7 linked regions of the Homo sapiens genome follow. The protein of the gene in region 4 purifies or fractionates together with the protein of the main gene of each other region. This does not show direct contact. Each region holds a gene or a part of one and is shown on either strand. Other genes may lie near its edges.

Region 1 (3,500 bases), on a different chromosome or scaffold from region 4:
AATGTGGAACCAGACCGGTGCGGTGGCTCACTCCTGTAATCCCAGCACTTTGGAGGACTGAGGTGGAAGAACCGATTAGGCCAAGGAGTTTGACACCAGCCTGGGCAACATGGCAAAACCCTGTCTCTACAAAAGTTAGTTGGGTGTGGTGGCATGCGCCTGTAGTCCCAGCTACTTGGGACGCTGAGATGCATCAACTGAGCCCGGGAGGTCGAGACTTCAGTGAGTCGTGGTTGTGACACTGCACTCAAGCCTAGATGACAGTGAGACCTTGTCTCAAAAAAAAAAAAAAGAAAAGGAAAATAAAATTTGGACTTATCCCATGAGTTTATAAAAACAGTTTAACAAGGATTGCTACAAATGTTTTTAAATTAACATAAAAAAGAAGGCCACAGAGTGGCTCTACCCAGCACTTTGGGAGGCCGAGGTGGGCGGATCACCTGAGGTCAGGAGTTCGGGACCAGCCTGGCCAATATGGTGAAACCCTGTCTCTACTAAAACTACAAAAATTAGCCAGGCATGGTGGTGGTGCCTGCAATCCCAGCTACTTGGGAGGCTGAGGCAAGAGAATCGCTTGAACCTGGGAGGAGGAGGTTACAATGAGCTGAGATTGCACCATTGCATTCCACAGTCCATCCTGGGTGACAATAGAGAGACTCAGTCTTAAAAAAAATAAAAATAAAAATAAAAAAAAATAAAAAAATAAAAAAACCACCACCACCAAGAAACAGCATTCTCCTGAAAGGTAAAAAAAGGATCATTCTACAGGTGTGTTTTTGAAAAGTGTCTACTTAAGGTAAGACAACACACCAAATTCTCAGGTCAAAAAGACATTACTAAACTTGAAACTTACAGCTTTACTATGGAAAAGTTATCAAATATTTTAAAACTGAGAAAGTCAACTACTAAAAATCTACTTAAGGATTATGTTAGACTTTGGACACAAGGGAATTCTGTCTATAGATGAGCAGTCAGGTATACAAAACAAATATTAAAACCAAAAATAGGCTTAAAAATAACTATTATCTAATCCATTACCAAGACCAAAAGTTGAATGGAATGCACAGAGAAGACTACAAAGAAGTTAAACTGATTATATATTAATAGGAGATTTTAAGATAAAGCACATGAAAACATTGCTTCACATTTATCTATGGCTCCCATTCCTGTTTCCAACAAAAATATAAACAAAATAAATCAAAGAAGACATTAAACACTGAGAGCAAAGCATGGAAAAATAAGTAATACAAAATACATTAGACAGTTGGGAATATTTTAATAGCATTTTCAGATAAATCTGGATACTGGTCTTTGACACTACACCAAAGCTCAGCAATTGGTTGCAATATGGAACAGGATACCTTATTGATAAACTTTTATGTTCTCTATAACATTAAAATCCATTGGTCTAGCTGACACTTTGTAAAGATTTCTTACCCATGTATGATTTTTATAATACTATGCATTGATCATTTGGAAATACTGACTCAGTTATGCAGATAATCAAATAATGACAGATTTCATTATATACTTACAGCAGCTGATACAAGCTTTCTAAAATTTTTGCTTAAAATCTAGGAACTTTATCATCGACCATAAATACTACCACTATTTTCCCTAAAGCAAAGCCTCACTGTTTTCAAGAAAATGTCAGCCTAATGCCCAAGTCTGGCATTCTTTTAAGCAAAAATGGCATTATATGAAGATTGATTCAGCGTGTGACTCAATCACACAAATACTTTCCCTAGAAACAACCATTATATTTCAGTATGCTGCCAAGTGTTTTTGTTTTGTTTTTCGAGACAGGGTCTTGCTCTGTCACCCAGGTTGAAGCGCAGTGGCACGATCACAGCTAACTGCAGCCTCCAACTCCTGGGCTCAAGAGATCCTTCCACCTCAGCCTCCAGAGTAGCTGTAGATGTGCATGACCACACTAACTTTTTTTTTTTTAATAGGAGAGACAGGCTCTCACTACATTGCCCAAGCTGGACTTAGCCTCCCAAAGTGCTGGGAGGCTTGCTGTCCATGGCCTCGCCAGTGTTTTAAGCATACTTCCCATTTTGTTACAGTATATTAAAGATGTGTACAAAGGTAGAGATTTAGTTTAAAATTTTTTTACTTCTTCATCAAGAGCATTTAGGTGAAACTTAAAAAAAAATCTGAGTGCATGGCAGTGAATAATACAATGATTACTAGGACAGTGAAGTACTCTAACCTGGTTTATTCTAAAGCGCCAGAAGTTTTATCCACCACTGTTTTTATACTACAGGTACAAATGTCACTACAAAGAAAACGGCAAAGAATGTCTCAGTATTATAAAAATAGTTTTGCACTTGTAGACTCGCCAAAAATGTCTAGGGGACCTCCAGGATTCCTTGGACCATACCTTGAAAATACTGATCTAGGTAATTCATTTGTTACACTAATCAAAACTCACAATTATTTATTAGTCCTTATTCATACTTTAATGGGATTCTTAAGCAATGCCATAGGAGAATAAAAGCTTTATAGGGCCAGGCAAGGTGGCTCACGCCTGCAATCCCAGCACTTTGGGAGGCCGAGGCGGGCAGATCACAAGGTGAGGAGTTCGAGACCAGCCTGGCCAATATGGTGAAGCCCCGTCTCTAAGAAAAATACAAAAAAAATTAGCCAGGCGTGGTGGCGCATGCCTGTAATCCCAGCTACTCGAGAGGCTGAGGCAGGTGAATTGCTTGAACCTGGGAGCAGAGGTTGCACTGAGCGAAGATTGTGCCACTGCATTCTAGCCTGGGCGACAGACTCCACCTCAAAAAAAAAAAAAAAAAAAAAAAAAGCTTTATAGAACAAGAACTAATACAGCTGGGTATGGTGGCTCATGCCTGTAATCCTAGCAGTTTGGGAGGTGGAGGCGGGCAGATTACTTGAGCTCAGGAGTTCAGACCAGCATGGGCAACATGGTGAGACCCCGTCTCTACAAAAAATACAAAAATTAGCTGGGCATGGTGGCATGCGCCTGTAGGCCCAGCTACTTGGGGAGCTGAGGCTGGAGAATGGCTTGAATCTGGGAGGTTGAAGCTGCAGTGAGCCAAGTTTGTGCCACTGCACTCCAGCCTGGGTGACAGAGTGAGGCTGTCAAAAAAAAAAATAGTACATTACTGTATTATTTTATGGTTTATGAAACATTCATGAGTAATACTGCATTTGATCCTCAACAACTCTAACAACAGTATGTCATCATTCTCACTGAGGAGGCAAGGAGGTTGGAAAGCTTCAGAAGGAAAGTACACATTTTGCTTTAAAAAAGTCATTGTAGTGATGGCATTACGGATGATACTCATTTTCTTCTTTATACTTTTCTATATTTTAAACATTGGTAAGAACGTCAAAAAGACATATTTGAACTCAGCCAATCTTATAAATACAAATCAGTACACTATCTCAAGTTTGTTAATTTCAAGAGCAGTAGGAGAAAACAACAGATAACATATGTTATATATCTCATCCTATCCCTCAATTCAAGA
Region 2 (3,500 bases), on a different chromosome or scaffold from region 4:
CTGTGGTGGCTACAGTGAAAGACTCCTTCTGTTTGAGAAAAGCAGAGATAAAAGTAAAGGGGACTTTGTCTTACACCTTAGGTACCAGCTCAGCCACAGTGAGGTAGAGCAACAAGCAGGTTCTTGGGGTCCCCAAGTCAAGGCTTACACTCCTTTTTTTTTTTTTTTTTTTTTTTTTTTTTTTTTTTGTGAGACAGAGTCTCGCTCTGTTGCCCAGGCTGGAGTGAAGTGGCGTGACCTCGGCTCACTGCAACCTCCACCTCCTGGGCTCAAGCGATTCTCCTGCCTCAGCCTTCCAAGTAGCTGGGATTACAGGTGCACTCCACCACGCCCAGCTGATTTTTGTATTTTTAGTAGAGATGGGGTTTCGCCATGGTGGCCAGGCTGGTCTCGAACTCCTGACCTCAGGTGATCCACCCGTCTTGGCCTTCCAAAGTGTTGGGATTACAGGCATGAGCCACCGTGTCTGGCCCAGGCCAACACTCTTGGACGGCATTTCTAGCACTACCCTGGGCCAGAGGGGAGCCCACTGCCCTGAAGGGTAAGTCCCAGGCCAGGCAGCTTTCACCACAAGCTGATGGAAGAGCCCTTGGGCTTTAAGTGAATATTGGTGGTGGCCTGGCAGAAACCCTGTGGACCAAAGGTGGTGGTAGCCACAGGGAGTGGCCCCTCTGCCTGTGGAAAGGGGAGGGAAGAGTGAGAAGAACTTTGTATTGTAGTGTGAGTGCTAGTTATCCGCAGTAGAACAGAACATCAGGTAAACTACTAAAGTATTTGACCCCAATCTGTGGCTTCCAGACAGCATCTCTGGACACGCCTGGGGCCTGAGGAAGCTTACTGCCCTGAAGGGAAGGGCCCTGGGCAAGACCCAGTGCTGGGCTGGCTTCAGGTCTGACCCAGTGCAGTCCCAGTGGTGGTGGCCACAGGAGTGCTTGCATCACCACACCCCCCAGTTCCAGGGGGTTTAGCACAGACAGAAAGAGACTCCATTTATTTGGGAGGAAGTAAGGGAAAAGAACAAGAGTCTCTGCCTGGTGATCCAGAGAATTCTTCTGGATCTTATCCAAGACCACTTAGGTGGTACCTCTACAAGTCTACAAAAGACACAATGTTATTGGGCTTGTTACCCAAGTCCCTTTGAATACCTGGAAAGCCTTCCCAAGAAGGACAGGCACAAACAAGCTCAGACTGTGAAGACTACAATAAGTACCCAACTCTTCAATGCCCAGACACCAAAGAACATCTACTAGCATCAACACCATCCAGGAATACATAACCTCCTCAAATAAACTAAATAAAGCACCAGAGACCAATCCTGGAGAAACAGAGATATACGACCTTTCTGACAGAGAATTCAAAATAGCTGTTTTGAAGAAACTCAAAGAAATTCAAGACAACACAGAAAGAATTCACAATTCTTTCAGATAAATTTAACAAAGGGATTGAAATAATTAAAAAGAATTAAACAGAAATTCTAGAAATGAAAAATGCAACTGACATGCTGAAGAATATATCAGAGTCTCAATAGCAGAACTGATCAGGCAGAAGAGTTTGTGAGCTGAAAGACAGGCTATTTGAAAATACATAGTCAGATGAGACAAAAGAAAAAAGAATAAAAAACAATGAAGCATGCCCACAAAATCTAGAAAACATTCTCAAAAGGGTAAATCTAAGAGTTATTGGCCTAAAAGAGGAGGTACAGAAACATATAGGGGTAAATAGTTTATTCAAAGGGATGATAACAGAGAACTTCCCAAACCTAGAGAAAGATATCAACATTTGAGTACAAGAAGATTATAGAACCCCAACAGCATTTAATCCAGAGACTAACTCAAGCCATTTAATAATCAAACTCCCAAAGGTCAAGGATAAAGAAAGAATTCTAAAAGCAGCAAGAAAAAAGAAACAAATAATATACAATGGTGCTCCAATATGTCTGGCAGCAGACTTTTCAGTGGAAACCTTACAGGCCAGGAGGGAGTGGCATGACATATTTAAAGTGCTGAAGGAAAAAACCCTTTTACTCTAAAATAGTATATCCAGTGAAAATATCCTTCAAGCATGAAGGAGAAATACTTTCCCAGACAAAGTTGAGGGATTTCATCAACACTAGATATGTCCTACAAGAAATACTAAAGAGAGTTCTTCAATCTGAAAGAAAAGGATGTTAATGAGCAAGAAGAAATCATATAAAGGTACAAAACTTCCTGATAACAGCAAGCACACATAAAAAACACAGAATAGTATAACACTATAATTGTGGTGTATAAACTTCTCATCTTACATAGAAAGATTAAATGATGAACCAATCAAAAATAGTAACTACAACAACTTTTCAAGACACAGACAGTACAATAAGATATAAAGAGAAAAAAAAAAAATTAAAAGCCAAGGAACAAAGTTAAAGTGTAGAGTTTTTATTAGTTTTCTTTCTGTGTGTTTGTTTGCATATGCAATCAGTATTGTCATCAGTTTAAAATAGTGGGTTATAAGATAGTATTTGCAAGCCTCATGGTAAAATAGAAAAACATACAATGGATATCAAAAAATTAAACAAAAAGAAAGAAATTAAAACATACCATCAGAGAAAAATCACCTTCATTAAAAGGAAGATAGGAAGAAAGCAAAGAAGGAATTGAAGACTGTAAAGCCACCAGAAAACAAATAACAAAATGGCAGGAGTAAGTCCTTACTTATCAATAATAACACTGAATGTAAATAGACTAAAGTCTGCAGTCAAAAAGACATAGAGTAGCTGAATGGATGAAAAAACAAGACCCAATGATCTGTTGCCTAAAAGAAACTTACTTCACCTATAAAGATACAAAGAGACTAAAAATAAAGGGATGGAAAAAGATATTCCATGACAATGGAAATGAAAAAAGAGCAGGAATAGCTAGAATAGCTATATTGATATCAGACAAAATAGACTGCAAGACAAAAACTGTAAGAAGAGACAAAGAAGATTATTATATAATGATAAAGGAGTCAATTCAGCAAGAGGACATAATGATTGTAAATATATATGCACCCAACACTGGAGTACCCAGCTATACAAAGCAAATATTATTAGAGCTAAAGAGATAGACCCCAATATAATAATAGCTGGAGACTTAAACACCCCACTTTCAGTATTGGATAGATCTCCCAGGCAGAACCTCGACAAAGAAATGTCAGACTTAATCTGCACTACAGAACAAATAGACCTAATAGTTATTTACAGAACATTTCATCCAATGGCTGCAGAATACACATTTTTCTCCTCAGCACATGGATCATTCTCAGGGATAGACCATATGTTAGATCACAAAACAAGTCTTAAAACATTCAAAAAATTTGGAATAATATCAAGCATCTTCTCTGACCACAATGGAATAAAACTACAAATCAATCACAAGAGGAATTTTGGAAATTATATAAACACATAGAAATTAAACAATATGATCCAGAATGGGATCACATCAAGTTAAAAAGCTTTTGCACAGCAAAGGAAACAATCA
Region 3 (2,598 bases), on a different chromosome or scaffold from region 4:
TCTTTCTAGTTGCTGGCACTCTATTAGACGTTAGGACTACCCAGAAGAAAGGCCTGGTCTCTGAGGTCATGGCACTTAAAATCTAGTAAGGATAAAATATGTGCTGAAGGATGTGTAAGCCGGTTGAAGAAAAGAGGGCCAAGACATTCCAGGACAAGGGAAAGGCAAGAGCCAGGAAGGTAAGGACACAGGCATTGACAGAACTGGGAGAGGACTCGTTCTTCCAGAGGACAGTATTGATACTAGAAAGTGCTGAGAGATTTGACTAAAGATGCAGGTAGAGGCCATCTAATGACTGGCCTTGTACGAAGTATTAGCTAGAATTAAGTTTGGCTGAATACCCACAATAATATGGGCTTAAAAGGAGACAGGGGTTCATTGCTTTGTCATTTAAAACCAGTCTGGGCAGGTGGTCTGGGCTGCTGTGCATTAAGGACCCAGATTCTCTCTGTTTTTACTGCTCTCTGTTCCAAACACGGCTAATAATTAGCACAACGTAGTCCTTTAAAATAAAGGTGGTTTTATTATAAAATTCTAAAAATGTACTTTAAAGTACAGTCATGAGAATACTGCATAAGTAGAAATGTGTCTTCATACTGCAAACAATCACACAGATTTTATATTGTCCATGGAATTAATACTTAAAAAAATTCTTCTTTTTAGTTAAGAAGAGTCTTCAGAGCACCATTATTCTAATAGAAGTTATTTTGCATATCAGAGTTCATCTTTGGTCTGCAATTAAGAAGCAAAATATTTAGAGCTATCAAGAAGTCTTACACAAGTGAAGAAGACTTACATTCGTTAATTATTTTCCTGTAAAGATGAGAGGGAGCCAAGCTGCTGCTAGAGGCTTTTAGGGCTTGGGACTATTTCCAGAGGCCCAGAGTCAGCTAAGGGTAAAATCACATTGTGTTTCATAGCCTACTGATAAGGAACCCAAACATCCATGGGCTGTACTACTGTAAAGGCCTCATGTTATGAACAGTAGTGGTGAAAGACTAGGATAGACAATGAGCAAAAAATAAACGAAGCTATCATTCTGGCCCCTAACTTCTACTACTCAGTGGAAGAAACTGGCTGGGTACCTCCTCTCAATCACGTAGATGAAGATAAATAACTGAGCAGGAGTGGAGCAAGGAAGCTGCCAGTCTCACTTAGAGCCAAAGTGAGAAGTGTTCTGATACCAAATCACGGATTGGTGAGGGGGAACCTTTCGATTTGGCAATTCTTGTTTTATCATTGGTTTTAACTGATTTTTATGGCCTTGGAGCACTGACAGAGTTCACAATGATGACGAACCACCTCTGAGGGCCAGTTGGTTAGTGGTTAATGAGTTCTATAAAAAACAAAGACAAAAATAAAACAGCCAAAATTCTGATTTGTAGCATGTGCTGATTGTCATGGTGTAAATACTCCTATCAGGATGATTCCAAGCTACCAAAAATTTAACTAGTATGCAAAATTCCTGAATATTTATCAGTGAGCTCATATAAGCTGGTTCTGTCACATCACTGGGGCCAGCCTCACCTTAATTCCTTTTACACCTCCTTGAGAGGTAGACATAATAATTGCCAAATCTGCCTTCTTGTCTTTGGTTATAATACCACAATTTTGAACTTGTCCATTCAGAAACCTAATTATGTTGCCTAAAATGTTAAGTCAGCATATGTTACACACACACACACACACACACACACACACACACACACACTCTAGTTTATGCAATTTACATTCCTTCAAACAAACAAAAATCATAATCAAAGCAACAGTCCCCTGCCACACTATAGCTTTATATACAAGCACACACAATCACAATCTGATGATGAGAGATTGGTTTTTGCTTTGCTATAATCCAGCTAGATGATTTTGAGCACAATTCCTTTTTGGGCTCAGTTTTGTTAACCATAAAATGAAGGCATTTACTGGATGACTTCTAAGGTCCTTTCTACCTTAAAAGTCCAGATGTGAATCTGACTTTCATTTTTATCAATGAGATCCTTATGTAGTGGTATCAACTGAGATGACTTTCAAATGAAGAATTGGAAAACATTAATAATCGTGGTTACATATTTTTCCTTCTCTAAACTGGGATGATGAACTTTGCCAAACTTATCTCATGAGGAGATGAGGGCATCAGATGATACACATGAAAATATTTTTCAGACTGTAAGCATCCATTCAAATAGGGTGTGAGCTGGATTCTCACATTATAAAAGACTTCCCCCCACTTTGCCAGGGAGCTACCATGTCTTCTCAATTAACTGCATTGTAGCATCCTTTCTTGAGCACTGCTATCTTTTATACCTATCTCTCTGGCAGACTGAATTGCTTGGAGACCTCGAGAGGAACTCAAATATTTGCTGCCTGATTGAATGACTATAGGAATAAAAGCAAGTTTGGATCAATGTTAGTTTTTACTCTGACACCGGCCATAAGCTCAGTTCTGGTTACCTTTTTCCTATGGCAAGTACAAGGGAAGAGGTCGTCCTCAGTCTGTGGTTCTACCCTTTTCATGCCCTCTCGGATTTGGGGCTCACTCACTTGTAAATTGGCATATTCCTGTTTAAGCAACAATATAAAAGCATTCCTTATAAAACA
Region 4 (2,678 bases):
GGCGCCGCTGGGTTAGGGTCTCCACGACTGAGCTGATCTCAGTATCTACCACATTCTGCTTTATTCTCTTCTCTAGGGTAAGAAAAATCACAATACATGGGTATTCAATAAAATTCAATTAATTTAAGCCTGACTCTTGAGAATGTGCAATTGAAGGTTATGAATGTGTCACACCTAAGGTGGTGGTAGAAGTCTCTGGCACATGGAAAATGCCTGTTTTAACTTTTAGCTATTTTTTTCAGGTTTTTGTCATTAGAATATTTCTTCTGTTTCTACTGCAAATAACTATCAAAAAGGAAAAGAACAACTAGGATGGCCTCCCCTGTTTATCATTGGCCCTACAATTTTCTAGGAGTAATATCTTTTTGGAATTATGTAATGTCCTCTGCTAATGACAGTGTATAGATGCTATTACATTTCCTTGGGGGACAAAGTACTGTTGTCTGGAAGCTTTGAGATTAATGTAACACAAAGTAAATAAGGAAGCGTTTTGCATATTCTTAGATTTTTACATTTTTATTTTAAAACAGAGAATTTCATATTGATTAACACCTACTACTAAACAGAATGATGCATTAATTAAATGCCTTGTCCTAACTGTTATAAGCTCTGTTAGAAAAATAAACATCTCACCACAAACTACAGTGTCAGCTCTTTAATAAATACATAAAACAGAAGTTAGTAGTCAATCAGAGTTATATGAACAGGTTCATAGTATATTATGTGAAAGTATCATATTCTCCAATATTCTGTATCATTTAAGACAATTTAAGTTACGTATAATTCAAAGCCAGAAATAATAAGAAATATGTTCAGTGATAATTTGCTTCTTTCTTAGAGCTATTTTATATTCAAATATTTAATTTAAAAATATATTCTATATTAAATTTATTTTTACAAACGCAGTATTCGTTAGGTGAAACAAAATAAGTTTTTATGTTACTGATAAGTTTAATACATTTCTAATTTTTTTCAGAAGTTCAAGAAACCATAATGAAGTAGCTAATGTAAAATAGTTTAAAAGCTATGTTAAATATACACAAAATGAATTTCTATATTAATATGTGCAAATGTATATTTTCTTATAATTTAGAATTAAAGTACTTTATACTCAATATTCTTAATAAAATTTATGTACCATACTTGTCATTGCGTAGACTTCTTATCAAAATTTCACATTTATCTGTAGGAAAATGTAAAGTTGGTAAAAATTGTTTACACAAATCACACATTTTCCATCCTTGACAATTGCAGTGTTTTTTTTTTAAATATTGCTGTATTAGACAATTTTAACTGAAGTAGGTTGTAGAGGCTAGAAACCTGATTAATAGAGCAGTATTAGACAATTCTAACTGAAGTAGGTTGCAGAGGCTAGAAGAAACCTGATTAATAGAGTTAGCTTACAAAGATAAATTTTATGCAGAAAAGTATTCCAGGTAGATAAAAGAGTAGTGTTATTACTCTCAGGTTTACATTAACAGCTGCCCAGATAGCTGAACAATTATTTCATATAATTCAAATAATTTAAATATGCAGTTTTATAACAGTCGTTACATAAGCTTGAAGTTAAAGTGATCAGAGCCAAGGGGGAAAAACCCACAAATGATAAAGAAGAATAAAAAGTAAGAGGACTCTAGAAGAAAGTTGTTTTTCACAGCACTGATTGTTTTTATCATATTTTTCTCCTGCCATTGATACAAGACATGTAAGATGCTGCAAAACCTAACTATGACAGTTCCATGTAATATTTTTCCAGTTAATTTTGTTTAAAAGTGAGATGATAATATAAAAGGATCTCATATAATAGAATAAAAATAATAAAAATTTGTTAATGAAACGTAGACATACCTACCCATTCTTGTTAGTTAAGTTAGGGTTTGCTGAAATCATTCGCACTCACGTAAAGTATAAATGGGGACCTGAAAGAGCTTTTGTAAACTCAAGATATGCGGGATCTGAGCTGATAATCAGTTAGGCTCCATGTTGAGTTGTGCGTGACTCAGTTGTCCTTAAATTTCGCCTTCATATTTTGTCATAAATGGGCTCTCAAATCTTTATAAGAAAACAAAATTTGCCTAGATGCATAAACATTTAGGTAAAGTTGGATTAGTGTAATATTTATTCAAGCATAATTTTAAACACTGCATCTGAAGTGCCAACAGTTGCAAGAAATGTCACAATTTCAGAGATGTTAAATTGAAAAAGTGATGTCTTGGAATCAATGAAATATAAATATGGATATGTATAATCAGTTATACATAAAAATTTGCTATAGAGGAATTATAAAAGAAAAGGAAAATTATTTGAAAGAATGTTAGCTATATCTCAGTGGTCTGCATTGCATAAAATGGAGTTCTTGAGGTCAATATAAATAAGGATAGTTGTAAATTAAATATTGAGTCAACATAACAGAATGCAATCTGCACATGATTGAGCTCCCATGTAACTATATTTCACTTGATACTTTTATGAAAACATATATATTCCAAATCCTTCAAAATGAAAAGAAGCTCAAACAGTTGTGAAAATTTAGAATTCTTAGATTTTAATGGGTCTGTCTTTGTTCAGGGGCAAAGACTCAAATGAGCTTTAAGATCAATTAAAGATGTCTGGAAATGAAGAACTTCATTATACCATTAAATTCAGTTATTTTTCACTATTAGGCTTATTAAGCTTGA
Region 5 (3,500 bases), about 130 Mb from region 4:
TGGAGTCCTTCCTTCCTTCTTTCCTTCATTTATTTATTTATTGAGTTTCCTTCTGTTGTGCAATGGCGTGATCTCGGCTCACTGCAACCTCTGCCTTCTGGGCTCAAGTGATTCTCATGTCTCAGCCTCCCAAGTAGCTGGGATTACAGGCGTGCAGCATGCCCGGCTAATTTTTTGTATTTTTAGTAGAGACAGGGTTTCTCCATGTTGGCCAGGCTGGTCTCGAACTTATGGACTCAAGTGACCTGCCTGCCTTGGTGGCCTCCCAAAGTGCTGGGATTACAGGTGTAGGCCACTGCGCCCAGCCTTCCTTTGTATTTTCTAACTGGTGGTTGTTTGCATAGATGGCGGCTTTTGATTCCCATTTATTAATATTAAACCCACACACCTTACTGAATTATTTTATTAGCTGTAGTAAATTTTGTCAGTTAATTATTTTGTGTTTCTCACTTATGCAATCAAGTCACTTGAAATGATGATAATTTTACCTATTTTCCAGTTAATAAGCCTCTAATTTCTCTCTCTTAACTAGTGGTGTTGACTAAACCACCAGAACAACGTTAAATGATGATGGTAATAGTATATGTGATTATCTTATTCTTGAATTCAACAGGAATACATTTCATGTTTTCCATTTAAGCATTATACTATCTTTGAGGTTGAGGTGGATATATCTGATCATGCTAAGAAAATAGGCATCTATTTCTATTTCACTACAATCTAGTTATTATCCAGATGGATATTGAATTTTGTTGAATCCATTCCAGTAGCTGAGGAAATGGATTATGACTTTTCTCTTTAAATCTATGACCACCAAGAACACATCTGCAGTTGAATGGGGTTGGGTTTATCGGCTCCTTGCAAGGAGGAGGAAAGTAAACCAAAAGGAACTATGGGATGTCTCACAAGAGGGTGTTAAAAAGGACTCTTTATAGGACAGGGCTTGTTTTAGTAGATTTGGGGGAGGTTGCAAGAAAATGGGGATTTCCTCTCAATGGGATGATGTCGGGAAGTAGGGGCAATTCTATAATTGTGTATATTTTAGATAATTCTTATGGAGAAGACGAGAAGAATAGAGTGAGGCTAAAGCTATGACGGTGAAAAGCATTAGTCATTTGTATCAGCCAGGATGGGGAGGTTTCCTGCGGTTTGGATAATGTTCTTGTTTTGTCTGTGCTCAGAGATCATTATGGAGTGGTCTGATCTCTGCCAAAAGACACGAGGGATTTCTGGGAGCACCACAAGCTAAGACAAAGACATGGAACAGAGTCTTTCCTAGAGCTTTCAGAGAGAGTACAACACCTTGATTTCAGACTTCTACCCTCCAGAACCGTGAGACAATACATTTCTGTTGTTTTAGGCTACCCTGTTTGTGGTATTTTCTTACTGCAGTCCTGGAAAACTAATAAAGATGCCAACTTTAAAGTATACAGAGTTGCCAGTTGCGGTGGCTCACGCCTGTAATCCCAGCACTTTGGGAGGCCAAGGTGGGCGGATCACGAGATCAGGAGTTCAAGACCAGCCTGGCCAATATGGTGAAATCCCATCTGTACTAAAAATACAAAAATTAGCCAGGCGTGGTGGTGCAGAGCTGTAGTTCCAGTTACTCGGGAGGCTGAGGCAGAAGAATCGCTTGAACCCGAAGAGCCGAGATCGCACCACTGCGCTCCAGCCTGGGTGACAGAGTGAGACTCCATCTCAACAACAATGGCAACAACAACAACAAAACAAAGAACATACAGAGTTTTTCAAGATTCTTCTGGGGGCCCGTGAGCCCAAAAATTTGCTTTAGATCAGTGTTTCTCAAAAGCTTACATAAACCATGTGATTCTCATGCATTTCACTCCCTTAGGGGTTTATTTTAAAAGTCATTTTCTGGGCTTCTTCCAGACCCACATAATGGGTGTGGGCCCTGTATTCTGCATTTTCAAACAAGTTTCCCAGGTTCTTCTACATCCCAAAACACTGCTGAAGTAGGAAGATACCTGGGCTGTAGACAAAAATTTGGATTTAATCTTTACCCAGTCTATTACTGAGCAAGTCTTGTCAATTTAGGCAATTTAAGAGTTAAAGTGTACACTCTACTGGGAAAATCCCCGGTTCCAAGTCGAGTGACTCTGAAATTTATTCACTGCACAGCATTTGTAAAATTGCTTCTTCTTTTTTTTTTTTTTTTGAGACAGAGTCTCACTCTGTTACCTAGGCAGGATGGAGTCCAATGGCGTGAGCTTGGCTCACCACAAGCTCCGCCTCTCAGGTTCAAGCGATTCTCCTGCCTTGGCCTCCCGAATAGCTGGGATTACAGGCATGCACCACCATGCCTAGCTAATTTTGTATTTTTAGTAGAAACGGGGTTTCTCCATGTTTCTCAGGCTGGTCTTGAACTCCTGACCTCAGGTGATTTGCCTGCCTCGGCCTCCCAAAGTGCTGGGATTATAGGCATGAGCCACCTCGCCTGGCCCAGAACAAACTTCTTAAGGGTCTGTCTAGCTCTGACATTCCACAAGGCTATGAAATGGTCCAGGAAGAGTTAGGGCAGGATGGCAAATTCAGGTGCCTTTGACTTTGGGAAGATGGAGGCAAAGCACTTTGTCCATCCAATTACTTTGTATTTATTTATTTATTGTTTGTTTGCCCAGACTCCAGTCTTGACAATTACTCTGCATTTTAAAACACTGTTGGGGCTAACCCTACCAACCTCTCCCCTGACCCGAGACAGAGTTAGCAGCTAATGTAGCTACTTCCCACTTTCTGTCACCCCTGCAAACAGGGCAAACAGGGATGCTGTATCTGGAAGCTCTAGGGGCAGGAGCCAGTCCTATTTATCCTTTGTAAAACACCTAGCAAAACGAGATGATTTTAGGTCAACCCTCCTGAAACTTGGCTTGGCTGCAGTGACAAGTTTTGTACCTACAGGAAGATCAGCATTTCCTTCCGTTCTTCCTCTGCCAATCCATCCCTGACTGGTCTTTTGCCCTCTTTTGAGTAAGAAACTCCTTGTTTTAGAGTGTTTCTGGATTAACGCTGGAAAGGGACCAACTCTGAGCCCATAGTGTGGATCCCATGTAACAGTACTCTTACCAGAAAAGGGGTTTCACCCCAGACCCCAAGGGCAGGTTCTTGGATCTTGCACAGGAAAGAATTTAGGGTGAGTCGCAAAGTACAGTAAAGTTTAAATGGTTTATTAGAAACTAATCTATTAGAGTAGGGTATCCTCAGGAAGCAAGAGGAAGAACGCCCTACCTCAAATGTAATGCTTGTTTGTGTAGGATATTAGAGCTAAGAATAGTGTATTTTATTACAAAGGCTTGTGATCGGCTTGTGACAGACTATCTGTATTGTTATTCTCTTGTGCAATTAATTTCAGAAAGAATTTATGAGTGGACTATTATCTTTAGAGCAAAATATAGTTTAAATTAAGAATGCCTTTTTCCAGGCCAGGCGCCATGGCTCAAGCCTGTAATCCCAGCACTTCGGGAGGCTGAGGTGGGTGGATCACT
Region 6 (3,500 bases), on a different chromosome or scaffold from region 4:
TGACATCTGTCTCATTCCTGACATTTTTATTTGTCTTTTTTCCCTCATCAGTCTGACTAAAGGTTTATCAATTTTATTGATCTTCTCAGAGAACCAGCTTTTGTTTTATTTTTACTCTTTATTTTCTATTTCAGTGATTTCTGCTCTGCTCTTTCTTATTTTCTTTCTTTTGCTTCCATTACATTGGGTGTAATTTGTTCTTCTTTTTCTATCTTAAGTAAAAGCTAAGTCATTGATTTTTCTTTTCTAATGCAGGTATTCAGTGCTATAAACATCCCTCTACCACTTAAATCGCATCCTACAAATTTTGATGTGTTTTTATTTCATTTGTTATATAAAATTGTCTAATTTTCCTTTGGATTTTGTGTTATCTATTTTTAATTCTATTGTGGTCAGTTAGGATTAGGGTTAAACATTAGGGTTAATTAAACATTTTATTTTAATTGCATCCCTTTCAACTCACTGAGACTTGTTTTATGGTCCAGAATATGGTCTATTTTAGTAAATATTCTACGTGCAATTTCAAAGAACAAATACTCTGAGCTTTTTGTAGTTCATAAGCGTGATGACTGGGTGTACACACATGTGTAAGATGTACCTCCCTCACACCTCGGTACAACATTGGCATATTACCCACCCCACATGAAGCACATTGGATACAACACTGGCACATTACCCATCCAACATGAAACCAAAGAATGTATATTCTGCTGTTGTTATATAAACATCAATTAGGTCAAATTGTTTGACAGTGAAACTTTGCATGGCAATTTTAACTTGAATTAACACAAAAACTTGAAAAAGTAAATTTTAAGTTCTAGGCGATACTGAAAAACAAAACATCCAGAATTCCACCAAATCCCTTAAAATACTCCACTTAATGGAATTTAGGTTAATAAAATCACTGAAGGAATATATTTCATGTCAAGAGATGATTAATCTATTGACCTAATTTAGAGAATCACAGCAGGTTAGAGCTGAATGAATCTCAGAGACTAGACCAAACGTCTATGTTTCAGTAACTCTGAAAGAATACAAGATGTGTGCGGGGCATCACACTCAATTTGTGACCACACTGCTTCACTCTGTGTTATTGTTTACCTGCTCCACTGTGCAAAAAATGTGAGCATCGTCCTGCTGGAAGCGCCTCACTCTGGTCAAGCCGCTGAGAGTCCCCGACAGTTCATTTCTATGCAGAACTCCAAAATCAGCAAATCTAATAGGCATTTCCCTCCAAGATCGTGGACGATGGGCAAACATTAGACTAGAAAAGATGTGGTAACACACAGCTTTTACACAGCACAGAAATATTAAATAATTATCTAAATATAAAGAAATTACAATTAAGCCTCAAGATTCATAAACTCCTTATTCTAGTTCTTAGATCACCAGGTTAAAAAAAAAATTCTTCCACAAATTAGTGAACCTTGCATTTACATCACTGCAGCACTCTGAGAAAGATGCTTGTCTATTATCTCTTCCCAGAAATGCTGTTCCCTCCCCTTATCCACACAGTGAATCACCATTTACTGTTTATGATTCATTTCAAAGGCTACTTCTTAAATGAAGCCCTCCTAGACATTTCCCAGACAGGGCTAGGCAGTTTCTCCTCACGTTCCTGGAACACCTCAAACATGCCATCATTATGGCACTGGTCTTTTTATAACAGATTGTCTACATGCATGGCCCTGCCCACTCTGCTCATGAGTTCCATGAGGGAATGGTTTGTGTCTTAATCACCTCTGCACTTCTAGCTCCAAGCACAAAAAGCACTCAACTATGTTCTCTGTTGAATGAAAGACTTCTCTCCTGCAGAAAGCACTCCTAGCTTCCATATCCCATTGCCTCTAAGCCACCGTGGTCTTGCTTTCTTATTCTGAGGTGTAAAAAGACAAACTTAAATTCTCTACTTTCATTATAAAGTACGAGGCTATAATTTTAAAGGATGCCTTTGAGAAGATGAGTTAAGAAATTGTTAACACAAGTGTTTTACAATGCAAAACACTAGCATAGCTTCTACCTTCTGTTTAGAAAGAGAGGATACAGAATGTTTACATACCGGTGTTCCTAAAATTAAAGTTATATATATTTTTTACATGACATCATCATAAAGTTAAATTTCTTCTCATCTTCACTTAAAAGGGCAAAGAGCTTTCTTCAGTGTTCAGTTACCGGTTTTAATAATTATCTTCTAGGTAAATTTACTTGAAACTATGTATGTTGATAATACAAAAACTACAATTGTTGGGATTGTTTTTTGTGGACAATTATGCCTATTCAGTTTCAGTTGTACAATATGTTTGTCTTACAAGGTTGAATTTGCATACCAACTTTATGATAATTAGTCTTTCATAGAATCAAAGACAGCATTGATTGTAAAATGTATCTTCATTTTATGTGCTACAAAGAAAGAAAATAACCTATTAATTAAATTATGATATAATGCTAAGATGCCACCAACTATAAGATGCATTTCAACTTCAGAAATGTTGAAATGTGGAAGAAAAATGGTATCTTGGAATCAGTGAAATCCAGAAACCCATTGATTATGACCTCATTGATCTTGTTATAATCCACCCAAACAGTATGAAAGAACTAAATATTCTGCAAATATGAACATGTGAAGTGCATTACTATAAGAAAGACAAATATTATAAAACTTATAAAATTGACACATAACATTATCCTTTAATCAGCACAAAAAAATGCAATGGTTACCAGCTAACATCCCATACCTGCCAAAGATCAAATATATTTTCAAAAGTAAATCCATTCTCCGGAATGAAACAACTTAGTAAAAATTAGTAATCACCACTCTTCAGATTAAAGGGACTCTTTCATTCCACAAAGCATTAAAAGATAATTGTGACGAAGCGTGCTATGTGCTCTCATGAAAAGGTCTGCTTCGCTTTTAATACTCACCAGTGCCCTGGACAATTCATGGGTTTGAGGGCAAAAGTGTCCTTTTCAATCTCAAAGGTAAACATGTTCTCGCTGTAATGCTGCCAGTGGCCTGAGGCTTCCCAGAGTTTACTGTTGTACATATTGGGAGAGAGCACCTCCGTGAAGTCCCGTTTGTGATATTCCTCCTTCAAGATACATGCATTCAACATTAAAATCTGCTAGGGCAGATCACAATTCCATGCAAAGTAACACTATGAGCAAATATTTTCAAATTGGGCTCATGTCCTATATTAATTCATGATTAATGTACCCTCAGTTTTAGGTGTGGTGGTTTCTGGATCTTGGAAGAAAGATTTACATATGCTTAGTATAATTTCTATTGAGTATATTTATTTTATAGCATATAACAGTATATAGTATATAATGTTTTAGTTCTTTGAAAAGTAGTAATTGAAATACAATATATATAGAAACTCACTGTAACTACTCCAAAGTCCTTCTAAACAGGTTTTTTCCTATTAAGAGGCAGAAAAAATTTATAATTTAATAAGCCTGAATGCCATGTTGCATGTTATAATTTTGATTTATTTAGTTTT
Region 7 (3,500 bases), on a different chromosome or scaffold from region 4:
TTTTTTTTTTCTTTTTTTGAGACGGAGTCTCGCTCTTTCGCCCAGGCCGGACTGCAGTGGCACTATCTCAGCTCACTGCAAGCTCCGCCTCCTGGGTTCACACCATCCTCCCGCCTCAGCCTCCTGAGTAGCTGGGACTACAGGTGCCCGCCACCGCGCCCGGCTAATTTTTTGTATTTTTAGTGGAGATGGGGTTTCACCGTGTTAGCCAGGATGGTCTCGATCTCCTGACCTCATGATCCGCCCGCCTCGGCCTCCCAAAGTGCTGGGATTACAGGCGTGAGCCACTGCGCCCGGCCCTGCCTCCATTTCTTAAACACCTCCAGGTAAGAATACTTTAATTCATTTACCACTTTGTTCTTATACAAATAAACAAGTTGCCAATTACAAATCTAGCTACTTTGGAATATCCTTCATCTCATTAATACATTACTAGTGTAAGTTTGCTGACAGGATTTGATGTACAATAAAAAAAAATACATCTTCCCTGTAAAGCCTATTCATGACAATAAATCCTTCAAACAATTCCACTTCTAAAAAAAACTAATTTTTCTGTGTAGTATTCAACAATGTTAAATATTTCAAAAAAATGCAATGTTTGTGCAGCTAGCTAACCAACACTTATTTTGCCAACTTGTTATTAAAATCTATCCTAACAATCTGTGTAGCTAGGAAGGGAGCCACAGATGTGACATAATCAAGATTTTCCAGATTACTTTTAATTATGGGACTATTTTGCTCAAATGCTGAACTATCAGGATTTCCAGACTACTGAATGCCAGATAAGTAATGGGACTTTATCATTATTCTGATAAGCCTTTGGATAACAAAGTCAGGTAGCGCTAAACACTCTTCCATCTATTATATTACTAAGGCAGCGCCCAAATGATCCATAAATTACAAATAAACAAGTTGCCAATTACAAATCTAGCTACCTCCATCTCTGTGCCACATCAGACAACTCACAGCATTCAGATCCAATAAACAACCCTTGGCCTGCTAAAAACAATTATAATTAACAGCTGTGGATGAGTGAGTAGTTATAGATTTCTGAAAAACTAGGAATTGTTCCACACAACAGGAAAGGTGTTTGTTTAATCAAAATATTGGGAAAGGCAGAGATCTTAAAAGAAAATATGCAACCCAGCATGATGGCTCAGGCCCTACATCCCAGCACTTTGGGAGGCTGAGGCAGGAGGATCACTTGAGGCCAGGAGTTTCAGACCAGCCTGGACAACATAGCAAGACTGTTTCCACCCCCACCCCGCCTCAGAAAAAGAAATCCAGCACAATCCCCTATCTAAATCCAGTACTAAACCCATATCTTCCATAAAAGGCAGCACGGTGAAAAGAGAATAAAATTCTGAAATCACACTGGGTGTGGTGGCTCACGCCTCAGGTGGCTAGTGTCTGCAATCCTAGCACTGTGGGAGGCCAAGGAGGGCTGACCGCTTGAGCCTAGGAGTTCAAAGCCAGCCTGGGCAACATGGCAAAACTCTGTCTCTAGAAAAAATACAAAAAATTAGTCAGAAGTGTTGGGAGGCGGAGGTTGCAGTGAGCCAAGATTGCACCACTGCACTCCAGCCTGGGTGGCAGAGCAAGACCCTGTCTCAAAAAAAAAAAAAAAGAAAAAAATGAAATCAGACATCACAGCCCCTGGTTCACTTCTGAACTTCCTTACTAACCAGCACTACGACCTGGGCAAATTACCTAATCTGAGTCTCAACTGCCTCATCTGTAGGGAATTATGCCAATTATACACCTATCTCATAGAACCACTATATGAATTATTTTAAGATACTATATGGATTATTTTAAGATACTATATGGATTATTTTAAGATTAAATGAGATAATCCATATAGTGTCTACAACATAAAAAATTTTAGTTCAAATGTCTCCTTTTGCCAGAAAGAATACCGATCACATAGGGAACTTAAGTTATGGCGCTGTGAGGGCCACCTCACTTCTCACCCAAACAAAATTACAAAAATACATGAATTCCCTCTACAACATCTTGGAAATCAAGTCCTGGTCTTTACACTGGAATACACATGTCCGTAGGGGGTACACAAAGATATGCAAGCAAGGGAATCAACTTCCATGCTACTCTCATAAACCTGATCTGTGTGGATAACTAGATGATCAATTTTAAATTTTCAGGCATAAAATTTATTACTTTAGGATGGGTAGGAAAACTACAGCCCTAAACCAGATCTGGTCTGCTACCAATAAAGTTTTATTGGAACACAACTACACAAAAATACTTGCATATTATCTACGGCTATTTTCTGGGTTTTTTTGGGTTTTTTTGAGACAGTCTTGCTCTGTCGTCCAGGCTGGAGTGCAGTGGAGCGATCTCGGCTCACTGCAACCTCCACCTCCCGGGTTCAAGCGATTCTCCTGCCTCAGCCTCCCAAGTAGCTGGGACTACAGGCGCCCACCAACACGCCCGGCTAATTTTTTTTGTATTTTTTAGTAGAGGCGGGGTTTCACTGTGTTAGCCAGGATGGTCTCGATCTCCTGACCTCGTGATCCGCCTGCCTCAGTCTCCCAAAGTGATGGGATTACAGGCGTGAGCCACCGCACCCGGCCACATATTGTCTATGGCTGTTTTCTCACTACAGTGAGAATTAAGCAGTAATCACAGAAACCATGTGGCCCATAAAGCCTTTCATCTGGCCTTTGACAGAAAGTTGACTTTTGCTTTAGGATAAAATTCTGTGGGAAAAGTGGAATGGATACAAGTTCAAAAAGAAAAAGGAAAAATATGTAATGGACAAACTCCCAAAATGATAAAAATGACCAAAACTAACTCAACTAACTATATTAAGAAATTGAATTAGTAAAATCTTCCCAGAGAGAAAAACCCAGGCCCATAGGACTTCACTGGTAAATTCTATGAAACACGTAAGAAATAATACCAATCCTACACAAACTATTTCAGAAAACAGAGGAGGAAGGAACACTTCCCAATTCATTTTATGAGGTCATAATTACCCTGCTACTAAGGCCAAAGATGACATAAAAAAAAGGAAACCTCAGACCAATATCCATCATGAACACAGTCACAAAAATTAACAAAATGTTAGCAAATTGAATCCATCTATATGTAAAAAGTAGTAGATACATTACTAAGCAGGGTTCATTTCACAAATGCAAGATGGGTTTAACATCTGAAAATCAAGTAATGTAATAAGCTATGTTATGTATTTCTTACAGTCTTTGTTTCAAAAGTTTAGTTGTATGTTTTTACAACATCAAATTGATATTGTATTTAGGTAATTTTATATTTATTTTTAAGAAGTCAATATTTACTTGTCAGAAATTACATCCTAAACTATTTAAAATTAAATACTTACACTATGTAAATCTAGGATGAAAAGTTTCAGGTGCCAACTTAAAAGTATATAAGATCTAACAGATTCCACAGTCTTTTAGACATTCTCAAGAAGAAATGTTTTAAGACTAGTGACCCAGCCTATACCTGAAAGCCTGAAA

The links.
Region 1: the proteins of ITGB8 (region 4) and RAP1B purify together in Homo sapiens (affinity purification with mass spectrometry; one large-scale study listed by BioGRID and IntAct). This does not show direct contact.
Region 2: the proteins of ITGB8 (region 4) and L2HGDH purify together in Homo sapiens (affinity purification with mass spectrometry; 2 studies listed by BioGRID and IntAct, with this or other methods). This does not show direct contact.
Region 3: the proteins of ITGB8 (region 4) and POGLUT2 purify together in Homo sapiens (affinity purification with mass spectrometry; one large-scale study listed by BioGRID and IntAct). This does not show direct contact.
Region 5: the proteins of ITGB8 (region 4) and ACTR3C purify together in Homo sapiens (affinity purification with mass spectrometry; one large-scale study listed by BioGRID and IntAct). This does not show direct contact.
Region 6: the proteins of ITGB8 (region 4) and TARS3 purify together in Homo sapiens (affinity purification with mass spectrometry; one large-scale study listed by BioGRID and IntAct). This does not show direct contact.
Region 7: the proteins of ITGB8 (region 4) and EDC3 purify together in Homo sapiens (affinity purification with mass spectrometry; one large-scale study listed by BioGRID and IntAct). This does not show direct contact.

What each region holds. Positions count from the first base shown.
Region 1 is NC_000012.12:68,617,399-68,620,898, reverse strand, and holds part of RAP1B (ras-related protein Rap-1b isoform 1 precursor), read right to left. Parts: intron 1-3,500. UniProt on the Homo sapiens protein: GTP-binding protein that possesses intrinsic GTPase activity. Contributes to the polarizing activity of KRIT1 and CDH5 in the establishment and maintenance of correct endothelial cell polarity and vascular lumen.
Region 2 is NC_000014.9:50,249,730-50,253,229, forward strand, and holds part of L2HGDH (L-2-hydroxyglutarate dehydrogenase, mitochondrial isoform 1 precursor), read right to left. Parts: intron 1-3,500.
Region 3 is NC_000013.11:102,783,781-102,786,378, forward strand, and holds the end of POGLUT2 (protein O-glucosyltransferase 2 isoform 1 precursor), read right to left. Parts: intron 2,560-2,598; coding exon 2,452-2,559; intron 733-2,451; coding exon 715-732; 3' UTR 501-714; downstream 1-500. UniProt on the Homo sapiens protein: Protein glucosyltransferase that catalyzes the transfer of glucose from UDP-glucose to a serine residue within the consensus sequence peptide C-X-N-T-X-G-S-F-X-C. Can also catalyze the transfer of xylose from UDP-xylose but less efficiently.
Region 4 is NC_000007.14:20,413,577-20,416,254, reverse strand, and holds the end of ITGB8 (integrin beta-8 precursor), read right to left. Parts: 3' UTR 501-2,678; downstream 1-500. UniProt on the Homo sapiens protein: Integrin alpha-V:beta-8 (ITGAV:ITGB8) is a receptor for fibronectin. It recognizes the sequence R-G-D in its ligands.
Region 5 is NC_000007.14:150,317,046-150,320,545, forward strand, and holds part of ACTR3C (actin-related protein 3C isoform a precursor), read right to left. Parts: intron 1-3,500. UniProt on the Homo sapiens protein: May play a role in the suppression of metastatic potential in lung adenoma carcinoma cells.
Region 6 is NC_000015.10:101,682,974-101,686,473, forward strand, and holds part of TARS3 (threonine--tRNA ligase 2, cytoplasmic), read right to left. Parts: intron 3,090-3,500; coding exon 2,923-3,089; intron 1,265-2,922; coding exon 1,102-1,264; intron 644-1,101; exon of another isoform or gene 542-643; intron 1-541. UniProt on the Homo sapiens protein: Catalyzes the attachment of threonine to tRNA(Thr) in a two-step reaction: threonine is first activated by ATP to form Thr-AMP and then transferred to the acceptor end of tRNA(Thr).
Region 7 is NC_000015.10:74,689,525-74,693,024, forward strand, and holds part of EDC3 (enhancer of mRNA-decapping protein 3), read right to left. Parts: intron 3,495-3,500; exon of another isoform or gene 3,362-3,494; intron 1-3,361. UniProt on the Homo sapiens protein: Binds single-stranded RNA. Involved in the process of mRNA degradation and in the positive regulation of mRNA decapping. May play a role in spermiogenesis and oogenesis.